Linked DNA regions of Homo sapiens: region 2 is linked to region 1. Evidence: fine-mapped expression QTL. A gene starts in region 1. The other region holds a variant in brackets. All regions are shown on one strand. Distances are between the middles of the regions.

Region 1 (9,500 bases):
AATAGCTGTTTTGATCTACTAATTTTATAAATGTGAAAATTAAGAGATGGCGAGCAATTTACCCAAGAACATACAATTTGTTGGGGGAAAAATGAAGTAAGTCTAAAATTCCTGTTCTTGACCTACAGCAATTCAGGACAAATCTAACCAAATTTCAAGAAGAAATCTATTCATGTAAAACTCCCTTCCCCTTTCCTCTTTTTTTTCCCATAACAGTCCTGACCAACACACTATTTTACTTATTTTGATTTTTGCCCGACTCCTCCCATAGAATATAATCTCCAAGAAGGCAGGAAACATTTTTTGTCTTTTAGTCTATTTTGTTCACTGCTGTATCCCCAGCACAGAGAACAGGGACTGCCTACTACACAGTAGCTCAAGTATTTATTGAATTAATAATTCCTCATTTAATGTGATTTTTGGTGCCTTCACTTCTCAATCACCCTCTCTTGGCAGAAGTGACAGGATTTGGTAACACTCTTGGATGGTGTTTAATAATTAACTGCAAGTCCTAATTCAACAAAAAGAATACTATATTCCATTCACTTTATTGTGTTTAATTAATTTCAGTATAACATTTCCAGGAATTTTCATTTGTATTGTCATTAAAATATTTTTCTATCATTTGTAAGACTGGGGAATAAATGGAGCCAGCTACTATGTCTTTAATTAACTTCCTCCTGTTTAATATTTTAATCATCTTTTCCTTATTAAAATTGTTTGCCTACTTCATTTGTACTACTAAGTCACAACGGATAGATTTATCTCTTTAAATAAATGAACTTCTGCTTACCCTAAAGCAAAAAGTTCCTGTACAAAAAATTTATTGTTCTAAAATGTTTCATTTAAAATAATTATTTTGGCCAGGCGTGGTGGCTCACACCTGTAATCCCAGCACTTTGGAAGGCCAAGGCGGATGGATCACCTGAGGTCAGGAGTTCAAGACCAGCCTTGCCAACATGGCAAAATCCATGTCTACTAAAAATACAAAAATTAGCTGGGCATGGTGGCAGGCACCTGTAATCCCAGCTACTCGGGAGGCTGAGGCAGGAGGATCACTTGAACCTGGAGTTGGGGGAGGCTGCAGTAAGCCGAGATTGCACCACTGCACTCCAGCCTAGGCGAAAGAGCGAGACTCCGTCTCTAAATAAATAAATTAATTAAAAATGAAATAAAATAACTGATTTAGGAACCCAGTCTCAAGAGCACAGGATTTCCAGACCTAGCCCTAATAGTTAAGTGTGTGAATTAATGCCATTTAATCTGAATTGTAATTTTTCGTGTTTCTGTCGTTCCCAATAAATGACAAATTCCCTAAAGATAGTCTTCCTCATTGCTGGCACACGTTTGATAAGTAAATGAATTATTAAGTGTATTCTTTGTTTTAATCATTTCTTTTCTTACCGGTCTTCTTTTTTGGGTCACTGAATTCCTCCAGATTTCTCAAATTCCCAAAGTAACTTTAATATCCAGAGCTGAGGCATCCTTTTTTAGTGGCCCAGCGCATCCCTTATAATATTGGCTATGACTCTACTGTCACTGTAATGTCACCTCTTTTCAGCCACTCTTATAGTCTGGATAATAGCTACAGCAGAGTATCTAGTTTCATAACAGTTTAGCTTTGCCTCAGAGCTAGTGATGAAAGTTTCGTATCTGTAAGGTTTCTAGGTGAAGGAGGCAGTCACAGTAGAGGTAGGTTTCCTTATGCTTACAACCTAGATGAGAGGGAAAATCCGATGCATATATATATGTGTGTGTGTGTGTGTGTGTGTGTGTGTGTGTTAGCATTAAAGTTACCATACCTCTAATTTTACAGTAAGTGTCTCATTAATTTAGTTGAAAGGCCATTCCTAAGCCTTTACAAGCAGTTTTAATTACAAAATATGCATATTCTGATTATTCAATAATATGCAGAACCTCTCCTCTGATTGTTCAATATGTAGAATCTCTTGTCTCTTTTTTAATTTGTCCCTCAAACCTAAGTTTTACAAGCCTGTATCCAAGTTTTATAAGCTAGTATCCCAGTTTCTACATAGTCATCTGTCTTGGTAAAATGTTTCAAGGAGACTTTAATGTTCATAATATGAACTCAATATATTACTATAAAATTTATATTTAATAATTAAATCTATTAAGGAACTTATACTATTGTGTTACTAATGAGTAATGTAATAGCCACTTTAAAGAGAAAGCCCTGCTTAAAACATAAATAAAAGCCACGTATTACCATATCAATACTTTTGAGCATTTTGTTGGAAGAGTAAATCTAGCTAATTTCCGAAATATACCATCTAATCCAGACTGACAAGGAAGAGTATCCTTTTCATTTTTCCTTAAAAGACAAGAAGAAAGAAGAAAGAGAGACAGAAAAGAAAGAAAGAAGTCTCTCTTTTGTTACTGCAGTTTTTAAAAGCTATATTGTACATAAAGCTACAGTAAACTAAGCTCCTAACAGGCCAAACCTTATCTCACTCTAAAACTGTAATTCCTCCTGCCTGTGGCCAAATTTATGGACAATATTAGTAAAAACATAGTACACAGTCGGGCAGGGTGGCTCACGCCTGTAATCCCAGCACTTTGGGAGGCCGAGAGGCGGATCACGAGGTCAGGAGATCGAGACCATCCTGGCTAACACGGTGAAACCCTGTCTCTACTAAAAATACAAAAAAATTAGCCGGGCGTGGCGGCATGCGCCTGTAGTCCCAGCTGCTGGGGAGGCTGAAGCAGGAGAATGGCGTGAATCCGGGAGGCAGAGGTTGCAGTGAGCCGAGATCGCGCCACTGGACTCCAGCCTGGGTGACAGAGCAAGACTCCGTCTCAAAAAAAATAAAATAAAAATAAAAATAAAATAAAAACATAGTACACATTACGACTTAAGTAGTTGAAATTTGTGCCAAGTTTGAGCAACAAATGAGTTGCTCAAAAACATTTTAAGGTGATTACTTGGAAGAATAAACAAACACCTTCAAACTTTTCAGAATCGCTCATTGTAACTGGTATCCAAATTACAATTTTTTAAATCTATTCACTCCAATCATACAAAGCCCTACAAGCAGTTGTATATTTGAAGGCAATTTAAGCTTTCTTTCAATAATTATTCAGACTTTACACGAACTTAATCGACCTTCTCTGAATGTGTCTAAATTTGGTTAGGTATTTGCAGATTAGCCACATCTGTAAACATTTGTATAAGGAGGTGAAACAAATAGATTTTACCATGCTTTCTTATTCCATAAAGTCCATAAAGCATTCTAAATCAAATGTAGAGTATCACGTCACATCCAGAATAAAAGTAAAAATAATGGATCACAACTTAAAATTACAGTGCTGTCTTTAATTAAAAAACTTGTTCATTTCTCACTGTGCACAATGTAGCACTAACATGGTCTTCCGAACACTGCTGCTTGGTATAAAACCGAGAAATATTAAAGACCAGGAATAAGGTTATGTGTCCTATGGGTACATTTCGGAAAAGAAAATACATCCAACGAGTATGACTCTAGATAGGATTTTGTACACCCTCAACAAGTGACAAAATTCAAAACTAGGTAACCGCCCTCATAAGGTACTTGAAACTAAAATTTTTGCCACGAAAACATGGCATGTGCAAAAGTTCTCTCTCTGGCCATCACTCCTGCTAAGGACACTGGGAAGGACATGGTCAACGTAGCAGTCGATCAAAAAGATTCCAGGGAAACTGCGCAACAGCCTGGGGCCGAGAAGCGAAACTTGGGTCTTCTCCACCCTCGTCGCACTCCTTTTCCCCGAGACTTGGTACTGGGAGATAGGACGGGAGTCTCCTACACGCAGTCAACACTTGCCACGAGCGGCTAGACTTAGGACAGGCAAGTTGCCCTGCCATCCTTCTATCGCCCCCACCCCTCCTTTACTTAAGGGCGATGGCAGAGACGTCCTCCTCCCCCTTCTCCTCCTCTTTGGTGCCTCCAGCCAGGAGGCGGGAGCGATCCACAGCAGCTGACCCAGCTCAGGCACTGCCTCTCTCACAGCCCTCAAGACACACCATGGGCCCAGAGGCAGGTTTGCTACACAGCAGCGACGACGCAGGCGGCGGCCCCAGCGACTCGCAACTGCCTCCCTGACCACAGCGGCCACCGCCCAACACCCCCGAGAAGCCATCGCCACCACCGGCAGGAGAACCTAGGGTCCATAAAGCCATCTTCGCGATCGACTAAAGCTACGTCAACAACTATGGCGGGCGACGGGCGGCGGGCAGAGGCGGTGCGGGAAGGATGGGGTGTGTACGTCACCCCCAGGGCCCCCATCCGAGAGGGAAGGGGCCGGCTCGCCCCTCAAAATGGCGGCAGCAGCGATGCGCCTGCGTACAGAACTCCTCCGTCGCGCCAGGGCCGGCGGGAAGTGAGGTTCTCGGACGAGCCGCCAGAAGTGTACGGCGACTTCGAGCCCCTGGTGGCCAAAGAAAGGTCCCCGGTGGGAAAACGAACCCGGCTAGAAGAGTTCCGGTCCGATTCTGCGAAAGAGGAAGTGAGAGAAAGCGCGTACTACCTTCGGTCTAGGCAGCGGAGGCAGCCGCGACCCCAGGAAACCGAGGAAATGAAGACGCGAAGGACTACCCGCCTTCAGCAGCAGCACTCAGAGCAGCCTCCGCTACAGCCGTCTCCTGTTATGACCAGGAGAGGGCTGCGGGACTCTCATTCCTCTGAAGGTGAGGACCGCGGAGGTAACAGTCCCAGCCGCGAGCCAGGGAACGCGCGGGGGCGGGCGCGCGCCTCGGTGGAGCTCATGCCCGCCTGGGTACTAAGTACTGGGATTGGCTAAAGGGTATTCCTCAGCCCCCTCTGGACTTGTGCCGCCGTGCAAGGGCCACCCTGACCCGCAGCGGGGAAGGAAGCGCCGACCGGAGGAGTGGAAAGATGGTCGTGTGGAGCGACCCGGGCAGGGCTGGGGCGCTCTGCCCAACATCGGGCATCAATTTAGGGGAGTCAGAGCTGCCTTTTTCTGCAGGCCTTCACGAGGGGACAGCGAATTACTGCAGGGTCGGTTTCATTTCGGTTCCCTCTACCCTGCGGATGTTTCTACAGAAACCACTTCCATTTCCTTCTTTAACGCTCGCGGGCCAGAGTCCCCAGCTGAGGATCTAACCTTTCAGTCTTTTTCCCTCCTCACCCAGGTGGGCAGAGAGGAAGGAGAAATTTTGTGAGTGGGCATTTCGAGGGATTGCTGAGTTTAGTGAATTGATTTGAGACCTCACCCAATACTTTCACCGAAATGGGGTAACTCATTTTTCCTGAACTGATGTTCCCCAGTGTTTGATAACTTGAGCTGATTGCTGTTTCTCCAGTGTGGTGGTCCCTGCCAAAAATCTGCCACTTTGGTGGCCGTCACTGTAACCTCAAGTAGTCTGGCAAATCAGACTGACAAAGTAACCTGAAAAACAAGACTATTAATTAGAGTTTTCGTCTAAATGGACAAAAGGGATGCTGACAAAGTGAGTGTATAGTGTTAGGTAAGTCATAGGTGAATCAGTTTCCTTAATCTATCCTCTCCCACCCTGCCCCCCCCATTTTAGGACCTAACACTGAGTCACAGATGAAGTTTCATGTTAATCCCATGTAAGGCACCTGTGAGGTAAAAATCAGCGGACCTGAGTCACAATGGGATGACATAGTTTGTGGTAGACTATTGATAGGCGGAGGAGTGGGTTTTCAGCTTAGAGCACGGTGATAGGCTGCAAGTTTACCTGCTGACTCGTGAAGGTACTGACAGATTTGAAGACTTGATTTTGGAAACTTTATGTTAAAGTTATGTCAGTTATTTTTGGGTGTAGCAACTGAAGACAGTTTAGCCCATATATGTGTTAGTTTTATCTCTTTTAAGATTACAAAGTTTTTGCAGACAAGGAGCCTATAATATATTTGATAGTAATTTAAGTACTTGGTTTAATTCAGTATTTTTCAGTACCTGGAAGAATGCTTTGTACATGGTAGGCAAAAAATATGTTACATTGTATTGAGTTCCACAGAGCCTAGTGCAGTTATACAGGCTAACTTTTTTTTAACAAGTAAAGAATTTACCCCTATTTTATTAAATCTTTAAGGATCTAAACATTTTTCACTCTTCTGCTTTCTTCCACATCATTTGTGACTCTCTACCCCATCTTTTTGATTTTCTGAAGTAATATATTTTTGTAAAACAACAATGGCAAATATTATTATATTCTGTTGAATTCATTGTATTCTGTCTCAAGAGGAGTTCTGACTGGTATATTTCCTAAGTTTTGGTAAACCTAACCACCTGTTTCTAAAGAAACGAATTTCTTGAATTTTTGCTTATGTATTGTTACAAAAATGCATAATCTGTGCCATGATCTCCCAGGTCATATATTCTGAATTTTAACTCTTGTTATGTCTGTTTTTTAGAGGATGAAGCATCTTCCCAAACTGATTTAAGCCAAACGATCTCAAAGAAAACTGTCAGGAGCATACAAGAGGCTCCAGGTAAGAATAGTTAACTTTTTGTTTTTCTCCTTACCTACCAACTTTTTAAATGTTCATTGAATTAAACAATGTAAGTATGTGTAAAGAAAAGACAAGGGCAGACACGTGAGTACTCAAGAGTACCAGCCACCCATATAACCTTGTAAGATAGGTATTATACCAATTTCATAGAAGAGAAAACTGAAACACAGAGAAGCTAAGACAATTCTGTAAGATCACATATGTGACTGAGCCAAAATTCAAACCCAGGTTTGTCTTCTCCAGAGCCCTTTTACTTTCCCCCCAAGTGCCTCACTATCATTCTCTCATGTCATAACTAGCTACTCAGTAAAATTTGTTCAATGTCAAATGAATGAATATGTTATACTGCCCTGTGTTTAAAATGGATTAACTTTTCTTCATGGTAAAATCTTGACACAGTGTGATCAGTCTTTTCAGTTTAATACTGTGGTTTATCAAATCTTAAGATGCTATCGACTATAAGAAACACCATCATTGTTTTATGTACCACCTAGCAAGGGAAAATGCTGCCAATTTTTTGGTAATTTGTAGTAATATGCCATAATTATATGATGCATCCCAATTTCAAAGATGTTAAAGTGTTTAAAAAAATTGTCAGAATCAATGTAACATGGAAGTAGGCTACATTTAATAGTTCACTTAAGTTTTAAAAGCTGATTAAAATATTTTAAAAAGCTGGAGAAGGGATCAAGTCCAGTTATTAATGCTTTGGGTTTTAGTTCCATTTAATTTTCAATTTGCTTTTTTTGATATTAGGAAAGTCTCACAATAATAAACAATCATAGCTGTTAAAACTGATAATCCTTGGTTTTTAGTACCCAGATCCTGACTTATTTACCTGTTTCTAATAAGATTATGCTTTATAATGTGAGCTATTGTATTCTAAACTTAGAATAAGTATGTCTGGTTCAAGTTGAGTTTCAAATAAAAACACCTTCATGCTAATTTTTTTTTCTTTTTTCTTTTTTGAGACAAAGTCTCGCTCTGTTGCTCAGGCTGGAGTGCAGTGGTGCCATCTCCACTCACTGCAACCTCCACCTCCCAGGTTCAAACAATTCTCCTGCCATAGCCTCCTGAGTAGCTGGGATTACAGGCGCCTGACACCACACCTGGCTAATTTTTGTATTTTTAGTAGACATAGGTTTTCACCATGTTGGCCAAGCTGGTCTCGAACTCCTGACCTCAGGTGATCCACCCGCCTTGGCCTCTCAAAGTGCTGGGATTATAGGCATCAGCCACCACGCCTGGCCTGTCCTATATTCCTTGAATAGTCTATGTTACTGTGTTAAGATTATAAACTATCTTAGAAAAATGCTTTGAATAATGATGATATAATCAGATTTTCTGGGCCATTTTGGAAAACCATAATCTTGAATTTATTTGCAGTAGATTTTATTGTATACCTGGGAAAGCAAAAATGTCTAATTTTAAATCTAGAGTAATTTATAAAAATTATGGAGTTAAGTAAATTGGTATAATGAAGACTACTGAGTGCTAGCCTCCGGACCATTATAAAACTATTAAGTAATAGAATGTCTTGAATAGTCTTTTTGGAGTTTATATTAGGCTCATATTTAAGAACTGCTAATGAGGTACACCATGGCTGCATGAGGTTGTGGCAAGAGCATTGGACCTCAGTGAAGTTACTCACTCATCTTGAGCCTTAGGCCTTTACCTGTGTTATTTGCCCTGCATAACTCACAGGGCCTCTGAAGAAATGAGATAGTACATTTGAAATCACTTTGTACCCGGTAAAACATGCAAGTGAGGTTTTTTTTTTCTCATAGCCCTTTACAAGAGATGTGAAGTTCATACAATTTTGCTTAAGTGTATCCTTTTTCTCAAGAAGCTTATGCTATAAATAGAAATTGAAAATGTTTACCAATATAAATGACAGATTAAATGGAATCTGCACATAGATTACCTGGACTGTATCAATAGCATACTGTGCCTTCAGTATTACTAGAAATAAGAGTATGTCTGTCTTTGAGAGGTTTGAGATACTCAGGGTTTTCTTCCTCTAAAAGGTGCTTTTATACTACATCTAATACTTGGCATATTCCCATCCCATGCCTCTTAATGAAAGGAGAGTTTAGGGAATTATTAAATGCTTATAAAGTCTAAGAGAAATTATTTAAATGGAGTCACTCTTTGATGGAGGACTGCTTTAAGTACAAGTTTAAGGTAAAGATAAGCCCTTCTTCCTCATAGAATGATAGACATTCAGTTTAACTTTGATATTCAAAATAGTGCTATAATTGTATATAAGGCTACCGGTGTGGTCTGACAGAAAATTATGCAAAGATGCCCTTACGAATAAAGACCTAGGCCCGGCATGGTGGCTCACGCCTGTAATCCCAGCACTTTGGGAGGCCAAGGTGGGCAGATCACGAGGTCAGGAGTTCGAGACCAGCCTGGCCAATATGGTGAAAACCCCATCTCTACTAAAAATACAAAAACTAGCCAGGCGTGGTGGTGGGCACCTGTAATCCCAGCTACTCGGGAGGCTGAGGCAGGAGAATCGCTTGAACGCGGGAGGCGGAGGTTGCAGTGAGCCGAGATCATGCCACTGCACTCCAGCCTGGGTGATGGAGCCAGAGTCCGTCTAAAAAAAAAAAATACCTAAACCAAAGGACCACCTTATAAAACAACATAGTAAAAATATCTACATCATTTGGTTATCTTGTTATTGGAAGACTTGAAAATGTTGATTAATTCAGAACAGGAATATAGTTTGAAATCTTCTCATTGTTTGAAATTCCATAATTGAGTTGTTTTCACTTAAAATAGCCGTTAGGTTGTTTAATCAATTCAGGTTATATATACCTACATAACAGTTATTCTCCTATGGCCAGATTCATTTCTTTCTGGAAATTATGACACTAATTTTATAATCCAAAAATATATTAGGACAAATTCTATTTACTTTTCCAGAAGTTAAATGGGTATTTTTGTTCTACTAGTGTGGTTTCTAGCTAAACAATCAGATAGTTGTTCTTAAAT
Region 2 (9,500 bases), 35 kb after region 1:
TTACAGCATCTTCACCAGGCAAGAGTTCAATATATGGCAGTTTTTCAGATGGTATAATATGTTTCATTTTATTATGGTGTGCTTAGTTTCTTTGTCCTTTTTATCCCGGAAGTTTCACCAATCCCATTAGATACTTAATGGGTCAAATACTTCCAAACTTTCTCTCAAAACTAATTATTGTGTGCTTTGTACTAGACCCCACCATATGCTGTGAAAAGCTATGAAAGAAATAGGTCATGTGTTTCAAGGAGCTCTCAGTCTAATCGGCACTCAGATATTCTACTTTTTCTTCTGCTTCTGGCTGATCTCTGTCTTCTTTTTTTCCTGGTGGAATTTGTATCTTCTTTGTCTACTAGAAATAAATACTCAAATTATGAAGCATAAGTTGATAGTCTTATTTTATTACTCTCACCATTAGATGACAGCATTCTGAAATCAGAGCTTGGAAACCAGTCACCATCAACCTCCAGCCGACGTAAGTTTATGTATTCAGTTTTTATTAAATATTTCTGTAAAATTGGTATTCCATAATTGTTTAAAAATGTTTTTTGACAGCAGTATGACTCGATGCTATTTGAAGAATCACATTTTAAGCACTTGAGAGGAAAAAGTATATATTCTACTAGCAGTGAAATTCTTTATAGACAAACTTTATGAGACAACATCTGGTATTGCTCTTCACTTAACTGTCTATAAGACCAAAAATAATAGCTAAAATAAGTAAAGCTACTAATACTGTTAACTGAGAAAACCATGCTGAATTGAAAGAAAGTTAGCCAGAGCATGACTTTATGGGATTACAATGGCTTTCGGAGTCTGCAAACCTGTATTTGAACTAGATTGGACCACTTACCTCCTTTACAGCCTTGTGGCAAGTTTCTTTAGTTCTCCAAGTCTTATTGTCCTGAAAGAGTACTAAGAAAATAACTTAATGGGCTGAGCGTGGTGGCTCATGCCTGTAATCTCAGCACTTTGGGAGGCCAAGGCAGGCGGATCATGAGATCAAGAGATCGAAACCATCCTGGCCAACATGGTGAAACCCCATCTCTACTAAAAATACAAAAATTAGCTGGGCGTGGTGGCACACGCCTGTTGTCCCACCTACTCAGGAGGCTGAGGCAGGAGAATCACTTGAACCCAGGAAGCGGAGGTTGCAGTGAGCCGAGATTGTGCCACTGCACTCCAGCCTGGCAACAGAGCGAGACTCTGTCTCAAAAAAAAAAAAAAAAGAAAATAGATTAATGATGATTCTGAAATTTTTTGTTCTTGGTACCGCTTTACACTAGTAAAGTTATTAAGAACCTCAAAGAGCTTTTTGTTGAAAATATGGGTTATGTCTATCCATATGTACCAGGAAATTAAAGTTGAAACATTTTTTAAAATATGTATTAATTTATTTTAAAATAATTTAGCAAGAAGAGTAACAGATCAGATTGCTTTGCATTTTTTCTAATCTCTTTAATGCCTAGCTTTAAAAAATGGATTTGGATTATCATATATGCTTCTGTATGCAGTCTGTTACAATATATTATTTTTGTTGAAGTATCTACAAAAAATCCAGCTTTTATACAGATATGAAAAATTTTAATAGCCTCTTCAGATAATTGTGGCTATTCTTTTTTGAACTCTCCAAAACTCAACAAGTGGTAGTTTCTTAAATGTTACTTGAAATAGGATATCTAAAACCATCTTACTGAGCTTTTAGTACTCTATTACATTAAAAGTCATTGGTCTTTCTTATACTTTGAATGGAGTATCATGCACTGGTCATTTGGAAAACATTGGTTCACTGAGGAATGCAGATTTTCCAAACATTGACACATTAGGAATGTAATAAAAAATATCACATTTGTTAACATCACTGCCAATCTCAAGACTTTAAAAAAGTGTTAAAGGGTGGGGTTCGTGGCCCATGCCTGTAATCCCAACATTTTGGGAGGCCCAGGCGGATGGATCACCTGAGGTCAGGAGTTCAAGACCAGCCTGGCCAACATGGCAAAACCCTGTCTCTACTAGAAATACAAAAACATTAGCTGGGAATGGTGGCACGCACCTGTAATCCCAGCTACTTAGGAGGCTGAGGCAGGAGAATCACTTGAACCTGGGAGGCAGAGGTTGCAGTGAGCCAAGATCGCACCACTTCATGTCATCCTGGGCCACAGAGCGAGACTCCATCTCAGAAAAAAAAAAGAAAGTGTTAAAGTACAATATTGGGAGTTGTCAAGCTCATGGTGGCAGATTTAGGATTCTAAAATCCTAATTTTCACTTGAAAGCAAATATCTGCCAAATACACAAGTCTGACTGTAGTTTGTTACTTGTTCTTTCAAGTAAAAAATAGTATTCCATGAAAAATGTGCTAATTCGCCTTGTAATTCATTTGCACAAAATTCTTTTCCTTGAGACAACCATGGTACTGTATGATGCAGCAGAAGTGCTTTGTGCATACCTTCCATTTGTTCAGAAAGAATATTGACATATGTACTCAAGGATTCAGATTTAATAAGATAAATAATTAACTGCTTCATAAAGGACATTCTTAAGTAAAAGAATGTCCCTTTGTTAAATCTTGAATGCATGGCAGTGAAAAATAACAATGACTACACTCGTACAGTTTGGTGCCACTGCCCTGTAACTCATGCTAAGGCATCAGAAGTTTTTCTCACCATAGCTTTTGCGTCATCAGTGCAAATGTCAACACAAGGTGAAAGTCAAATAACATCTTAGTGTTAGAAGAATAGCTTTAACTTCATGGACCCCCCTCCCCACAAAATAGGGTCTTGAGGTACCCCACAGACCACGCCTTGAGAATTGCTGCTCTAAAAGGTCCCTACTAAAATTAATAGCCTGAAACAGTCAATAAGTAAAAGATGTAAAAGTATTATTGTTACTATCAACTGAATAAATGAAGTAGAATATGAGAAAGTACTTTATAAACCGAAAAGCACTAGATAAATATAAATTAATCCTATTATTATTGCCAATAGTAACTAGGGATGAGTCACAAACTAAATTTTACCAGTGTTAACTTGCATACCACAAAAGGCATCAGTGAAATTAATCTAAAGGGACAGCTAGCTATTATAACACGTAGAAGATGTTCATTTATATTGCATCCTTTTCTTTTTTTTTTTTTTTTTTTTTGAGATGGAATCTCTCTCTGTCACCCAGGCTGGAGTGCAGTGGCGTGATCTCGGCTCACTGCAACCTCCGCCTCCCGTGTTCAAGTGATTCTCCTGCCTCAGCCTCCCAAGTAGCTGGACTACAGGTGTGTGCCACCACACCCAGCTAGTTTTTTGTATTTTCAGTAGAGACGGGGTTTCACAGTCTCGATCTCCTGACCTCGTGATCCTCCCTCCTCGGCCTCCCAAAGTGCTGGGACTACAGGCATGAGCCACCACTTCCAGCCTGCATCCTTTTCTTTATCCCTTTATGTACTTCAGAAATATTTCACCTTGAATAATTAGCCATGTGAATGCTGAGTTACTAAATTAAAAAAATATTTTATAAATTGTATTTTAATAGTCTATTCTCCCAACTATTAGCAGTGAAAATAATAACTTCGCTTTATAAACTATTATTTTTCTGACTTGTTTATGCCATTTCATATGTTTAAAAACTTTTTTCCTCAAAGACTTATTTTTATATTGAAGAGACATATGCATATTTGTACACATAATTCAAAGCCTATGCATGTAAGATTTTCTTGAGAATGTGATAAATTATTTTATTAAGAAAATTATCAGCTTTCTTCTTTAAAGTCCTTCCTCTTTTACCTAATGTTTATAAAGACTGATATTGATTTTAAAAGTCACTTGCCCCTGAATCTAAGAAAGTGGTATTTATATCTGTCATTTCTTTTTTGTCTGAGTAGAAGTGACTGGACAACCCCAAAATGCATCTTTTGTCAAGAGGAACCGGTGGTGGCTACTTCCTCTGATAGCTGCTCTTGCCTCTGGGAGTTTTTGGTTCTTTAGTACTCCTGAGGTAGAAACCACTGCTGTTCAAGAGTTCCAGAACCAGATGAATCAACTTAAGAATAAGTACCAAGGTCAAGATGAGAAGCTGTGGAAAAGGAGCCAAACATTCCTGGAAAAACATCTTAATAGCTCCCATCCTCGGTCTCAGCCTGCTATCTTACTGCTCACTGCTGCCCGAGATGCTGAAGAAGCACTTAGGTGTCTGAGTGAACAAATTGCTGATGCCTATTCTTCTTTTCGTAGTGTCCGTGCCATCCGGATTGATGGGACAGATAAAGCTACTCAAGACAGTGATACTGTCAAACTAGAGGTAGACCAAGAACTGAGCAATGGATTTAAGAATGGCCAGAATGCAGCTGTGGTACACCGCTTTGAGTCATTTCCCGCAGGCTCTACTTTGATCTTCTACAAATATTGTGACCATGAAAACGCGGCCTTCAAAGATGTAGCCTTAGTCCTGACTGTCTTATTGGAGGAAGAGACACTTGGAACAAGTCTAGGCCTAAAGGAAGTTGAAGAAAAAGTAAGAGATTTTCTTAAAGTCAAGTTCACCAATTCTAACACACCCAACTCCTACAATCATATGGACCCAGACAAACTGAATGGCCTCTGGAGCCGTATTTCTCACTTAGTTCTGCCTGTGCAACCTGAAAATGCCCTGAAAAGGGGCATCTGCTTATAAGAAGTGAGAGAGAAGAAAAATCATGTCCCAAGTTCTGAGAATTGTTCACACTTTCTAACCAGAGACAGAATTCAGAGCTCTTTTTGAAAGAACTAGTTTCTTTTTAAAGAAGTTAAGTGCTTACATAAACATGGAACATATAAATCATTCATTCAACCTAATTATCTGTGATATGAGAGAATCATTTCAGTTTCCATTGAGAGCTCTGTTAAAGGTATCTTAGGAGTGCAGATTATATGCAGTTCCTTAGAGAATCTGTTTTGATTCTGGGCTGAGTTATTACAGTTATGGTATGACCAGTGAGAGGGATTTGTGTCCTTTCTTATGAACCTTCCTGATTTTTTAACTTAGATTTCTCACTAAGTTTCCTGAGTTATTAGTAAGATTGCTCCCTAAATGTAACCAGGGATTTT[C/T]CCATTATGTTCCCTTTTATACCATTTAGGTGTGAGTTCCTTAGCTTCTGCCTATAGGAACATAAGTAATGAAAGGTCATCTAGGTGTGTGTTTGGAATTTTTTTCTTTTGTTTTTTGGAAAATGGAAAGAACAAGGCAAGGAAGGAAAATTAATGGGGAAGCTGAAGGGAGGAAATGTTACAGTAATCCACTGAGATGTAGTTTAGTCAAACATAGGTATATGAACTGTTAATCTTGGTGGATTCCGTTGGGATTTGTTTTTTACATCTCCTTTTTCCTTCCTTGAAGAAAAATTCTTGGCTGTCCCAAGGATTCTTCATGTATATTGCAAAATTTAATATATTTGTTCACTTGAGTCTTAAGAGTAGGTCAGGCCAAGGCAGGTGGATCACCTGAGGTCAGAAGTTCAAGACCAGCCTGGCCAACATGGTGAAACCCCGTCTCTACTAAAAATACAAAAATTAGCTGGGCGTGGTGGTGCATGCCTGAAATCCCAGCTACTTGGGAGGCTGAGGCAGGAGAATTGCTTGAACCCGGGAGGCGGAGGTTGCAGTAAGCCGAGACCATGCTTATTGCCCTCCAGTCTGGGCAACAAAAATGAAACTCCGTCTCAAAAAAAAAAAAGTAGGTCAATTCGTAACAGTTTATTTTGGACACACCCTGAAGCTTTTGTTTTGAATTAAGAAATGAGTTTCAGGAATTGACAAACCATTTGTTAACCAGCTGTCCTGGGCTATTGAAGAAGATTTCATTTTCCGCGCATCCACTTGTTGCAGTCCAAGTCCTCTAGTGCAACGCCATAGCAAATATAAAGATTTACTATGCACGTGATACATTTTATGGAGTGCCTCAAGCCAAGATAGTGAATTTATATGAAGGGTGTGAAATGTATTTCTTTACTACTATAGTAGTTTAGTTATAACTTTGCATCTATAATTGAGCTTTCTCATCTGTCAAATGCTATGGTTTTCTTAAAATGTTACAATTCTAGATCTATCCACCTTGTTTTTTTATTGTCTACAAACCATTAAATGTAAATATTGTTTTTAGAGTCAGTCATTGGCTTTGTCATTTACCCTTTGAGAGTTCCACAAGTGGTAGTAGAGTGGTTTAACGTCTTTCCTCTAGTACTACCAGTATTCATAAATGTATACCCCTTACTGTAATTTGTTCCTCTTAGAAGTCAGATCATCTGATTTATAGAGGATTATGAAAACCAGAGTTTTTGAAAAGGCTTATTTTATACATACGTATTATATAGAGAAACAAATGTTTTTATTAAATGTTTCATTGACCCAAGTAATTTAAAAGTAATATGTTACCTATGTCTTTCAGGAAAAATAATTATAGCAGCTGATCTGTAAATGACTTTAAAAGCTATTTTAGTAATTTAAATAAATTTACTTTCTTGGTTTATACTCTCTATGTGTTATAAACTTAATGATTTATCATCTTTAAAAAAAGAAATCCAAGTATTTTCCTTGAACAATTGTAGCAACTCTGGCTAGGAGAAACAAAAATCAAAGAACTGGAGCCATTTGCAAGTACATTGGTTAGAAGTGGAATAGCCGTAACTTTCCATTTTATCTCGGCACTTAGGGTTTTTAAAAATACAGTTAAGTTAGATATTCCTGACTTAGCAAAAGAATCTCCACAGCAGCTTTTCTTTTTTTTTTTTTTAAGTAGACATGGGATCTCGCTATATTGCCCAGGCTGTTTTTGAACTCTTGGCCTCAAGCAGTCCTCCTGCCTAAGCCTCCTAAGTAGCTGGGATTACAGGCATAAGTCACTACACCTGGCTTCTTAACCTTTTCTTTATCACCTCCCTGAAGAACTTTTTTAGATTTTTTTCTTAGTCACCCCTTCCCCATGATATTTCAACACCAGATATATACTATGTATCTGTTTATGGACTGTAAATGTTTTTTGCTTTATACAAAATAGAATTTTTTTTTGTCCCCAATGAACCAATTTTCACCCCCATTGAGAATGCATGCTCAAGAGCATCCACGTTTTAGATAATTGCTGCCTAAAATGTTCTATTTGCTATTCATGTTACTGTGATCCTTTTAGAAGGGAAAATTTATTTTTTATTTTTTTTATTTTTTATTTTTTTTATTTTTGAGACAATCTCACTCTTGCCCAGGCTGGAGTGCAGTGGCGCAATCTCGGCTCACTGCAACCTCCGCCTCCCATGTTCAAGTGATTCTTCTGCCTCAGCCTCCCGAGTAGCTGGGATTACAGGTTCACACCACCATGCCCGGCTAATTTTTTGTATTTTTAGTAGAGACGGAGTTTCACCATGTTGGCCAGGCTGGTCTTGAACTCCTGACCTCAGGTGATCCACCTGCCTTGGCCTCCCAAAGTGCTGGGATTACAGGCATGAGCCGCGGAGCCTGGCCTAGAAAGGAAAATTTAAGTAAGATACCAGCTTCAGAATAGGAGCTAGGGTCTAGAGAAATGGAGCACATTGTAACTGGCTGACAACAGTGGCCCAGGAAAACCACAGTAACTTAATTTGAAACTTAATTTGCTTCCCTTGTTTTAATGACTTTTTAATATTTAAAGATGTTTTCTAAACCTCTAATCCTCAAAACAAAAATTGGAAGTAAACTGATTTTCATTCAGTGAACTGCCATTTAGAAGTGATAGGGGTTTACATACTTTGTACCATTAGTTAACGCCTAAGCTAAAAGTATAATATCCAGTTTCCCTATGATCTCAAGTTTATGGAAAGTAGCCTTTCTTTTGGCAGTGTAAACAAGCAGTTACATTAAATACGTAAAGATAATGCATTATTCTGCTATTTTGTCCTTATCAAGATCATGTAGTAAAATTTTGTGGTATAAGAGGATAGTGTTTTTCCCTAAGGAAGAGGATTTTATTGGCATTAACCACCAAAGATGGGGTTCCTGAGCCTGGAAAACCAAGCTGAGAAGGCTGCCATTGACTGGAAAAGGAGGAAATTCCTCCCTTGAATGCCCTCTTTCTGGCCTGGATTCTGAGAATTCCTTGTGTGTTTAAGGACCCTTGTGGGTGGTAGAGAAACTAGTTCCTGTCACCTGAGCATAAACAGAAGAACCCCTTTGTACTCTACACCCCAGACATAATGAACTACTTGCAATTTCCTAAACACATCATTCACTTGTCTTTTGCACATTCTTAGACTCTTGGAATACTTCATTTCCTGCCCTCTCGCTTTCTCCAATCTCATGTTCTGCTAATTTTTATTTGTCCTTAAAGTCTTCGTTTTCTTAGGGCAGCACTTCAGTGAAATCTTTCATAATTCCCTTCCCCCAGATACTATTTTAGGTGCCTCCTGTTTTTTTTCTTTCTTTCTTTCTTTCTTTCTTTTTTCTTTTTCTTTTTTTGGTAGCTTAAACAATAAGACCTTTATTGTTACAAAACCCAGCAGCGTGAGGAGTTCCTGGGTTGGGTGAATTAGAGGCTGGAAAAATTCATCGCAAGCATTACAAGATAACCAATGATACCCCTGATGAAAGAAAACCTCTGCAAACTGCTAGCTGAAGCCAGCTCCTGTCCTTTTATCCAAAACTGGGTAGTGTCCAGCCAAACCATTTTGGGGGTTGAATGAGTCACTTCAAAGGGCTCAAATGACTGGTGAATCTTCCAGATAAAAGGAGAGAACACAGACTTTCCTGCGCATTTTAAAGTGACTGAGGTGCTCCACACTCTGATTTATCCTTTATTACCCTGTGGCAGCATTAGCATACCCCTGCTACCACATGCATCTTGCAAGCAGTGATGTGTCATCAATATATGCACCGTGGCAATCACAGAATGCTCAAATATTTATTGAATAAAAAGAGCAAGCCATACCTAATTATAGCTAGGTAAGTTGCATCTTAGTGTTTTATTTGCTTTCCCCACCCCCATCCCCCATTACGCCTAAGCCCTATCTAAAAGTTGTATATAACTCATCTGGGTTTAGCAATGCTATGAATAAGGAAAAACAAAGAGGACCAATCTACGCCGTGGAAGGGAAATGCACTTCTCTGATAGAGACAGTGATCATTACAGGTCCTCAAGGGAAAGGTGGAATATCAAGGGAAAAGACTGGGAAGCTGTGAGGTCTTTCCACAGTGATATTTGGCATTTGCATTTTCTAAAAATAGCTAGCAAGTATTCTTCCATCTTTTTCTGTTGCCTAAGAGGGTATTATAATTCAGATAAAAGATGGCTATGGATGTACGAACAAGATGGATAAGAAAAATATTCGAGAATTAGAACTGACCAGATTTGATTGACTGTAGAAGTGCTGAAAATTTCTCTTTCTTCTGTTTAGCTCATATATCTTCTCCCCAGATACTAAGCATAAAGTGATAGACTAAATTCCTATCTCTGCATGTCAATATGTTGACTTTTAGTTTGAAGTAGAGCCACACATATTTGGTCAGAAATTGAT

Which allele goes with the higher level. Positions count from the first base shown, and alleles are read on the strand shown. Sizes are in standard deviations (SD) of each study's normalised expression.
For the expression in fibroblasts of the gene that starts at base 3,992 in region 1, C is the high allele of the variant in region 2 and T is the other (small effect, 0.19 SD a copy in GTEx).

The links. PIP is the estimated chance that this variant, and not a neighbour inherited with it, causes the effect.
Region 2: its variant is the best candidate, but not a certain one, in a credible set for the expression of TOR1AIP1 in fibroblasts (GTEx, PIP 0.85).

Annotation. Positions count from the first base shown.
Region 1 is chr1:179,878,294-179,887,793 of GRCh38, forward strand. TOR1AIP1 (torsin 1A interacting protein 1) reads left to right here and starts at 3,992. Exons shown (of 10, transcript NM_015602.4): 1 at 3,992-4,684; 2 at 6,399-6,476. The coding sequence starts at 4,210. It overlaps LOC139427322, which reads left to right and starts at 4,023. Exons shown (of 1, transcript NM_001436163.1): 1 at 4,023-4,100. The coding sequence starts at 4,023. The coding sequence ends at 4,100. RefSeq lists enhancers at 3,358-3,896, 3,809-3,918, 3,897-4,434, 3,939-4,698, 4,261-4,555 and 1 more.
Region 2 is chr1:179,913,580-179,923,079 of GRCh38, forward strand. TOR1AIP1 (torsin 1A interacting protein 1) reads left to right here. Exons shown (of 10, transcript NM_015602.4): 9 at 419-475; 10 at 3,873-6,497. The coding sequence ends at 4,660. Among named protein-coding and RNA genes, the nearest start is that of TOR1AIP1, 36 kb to the left of the region's middle. The variant C/T (reference allele first, on the strand shown) is at 5,074.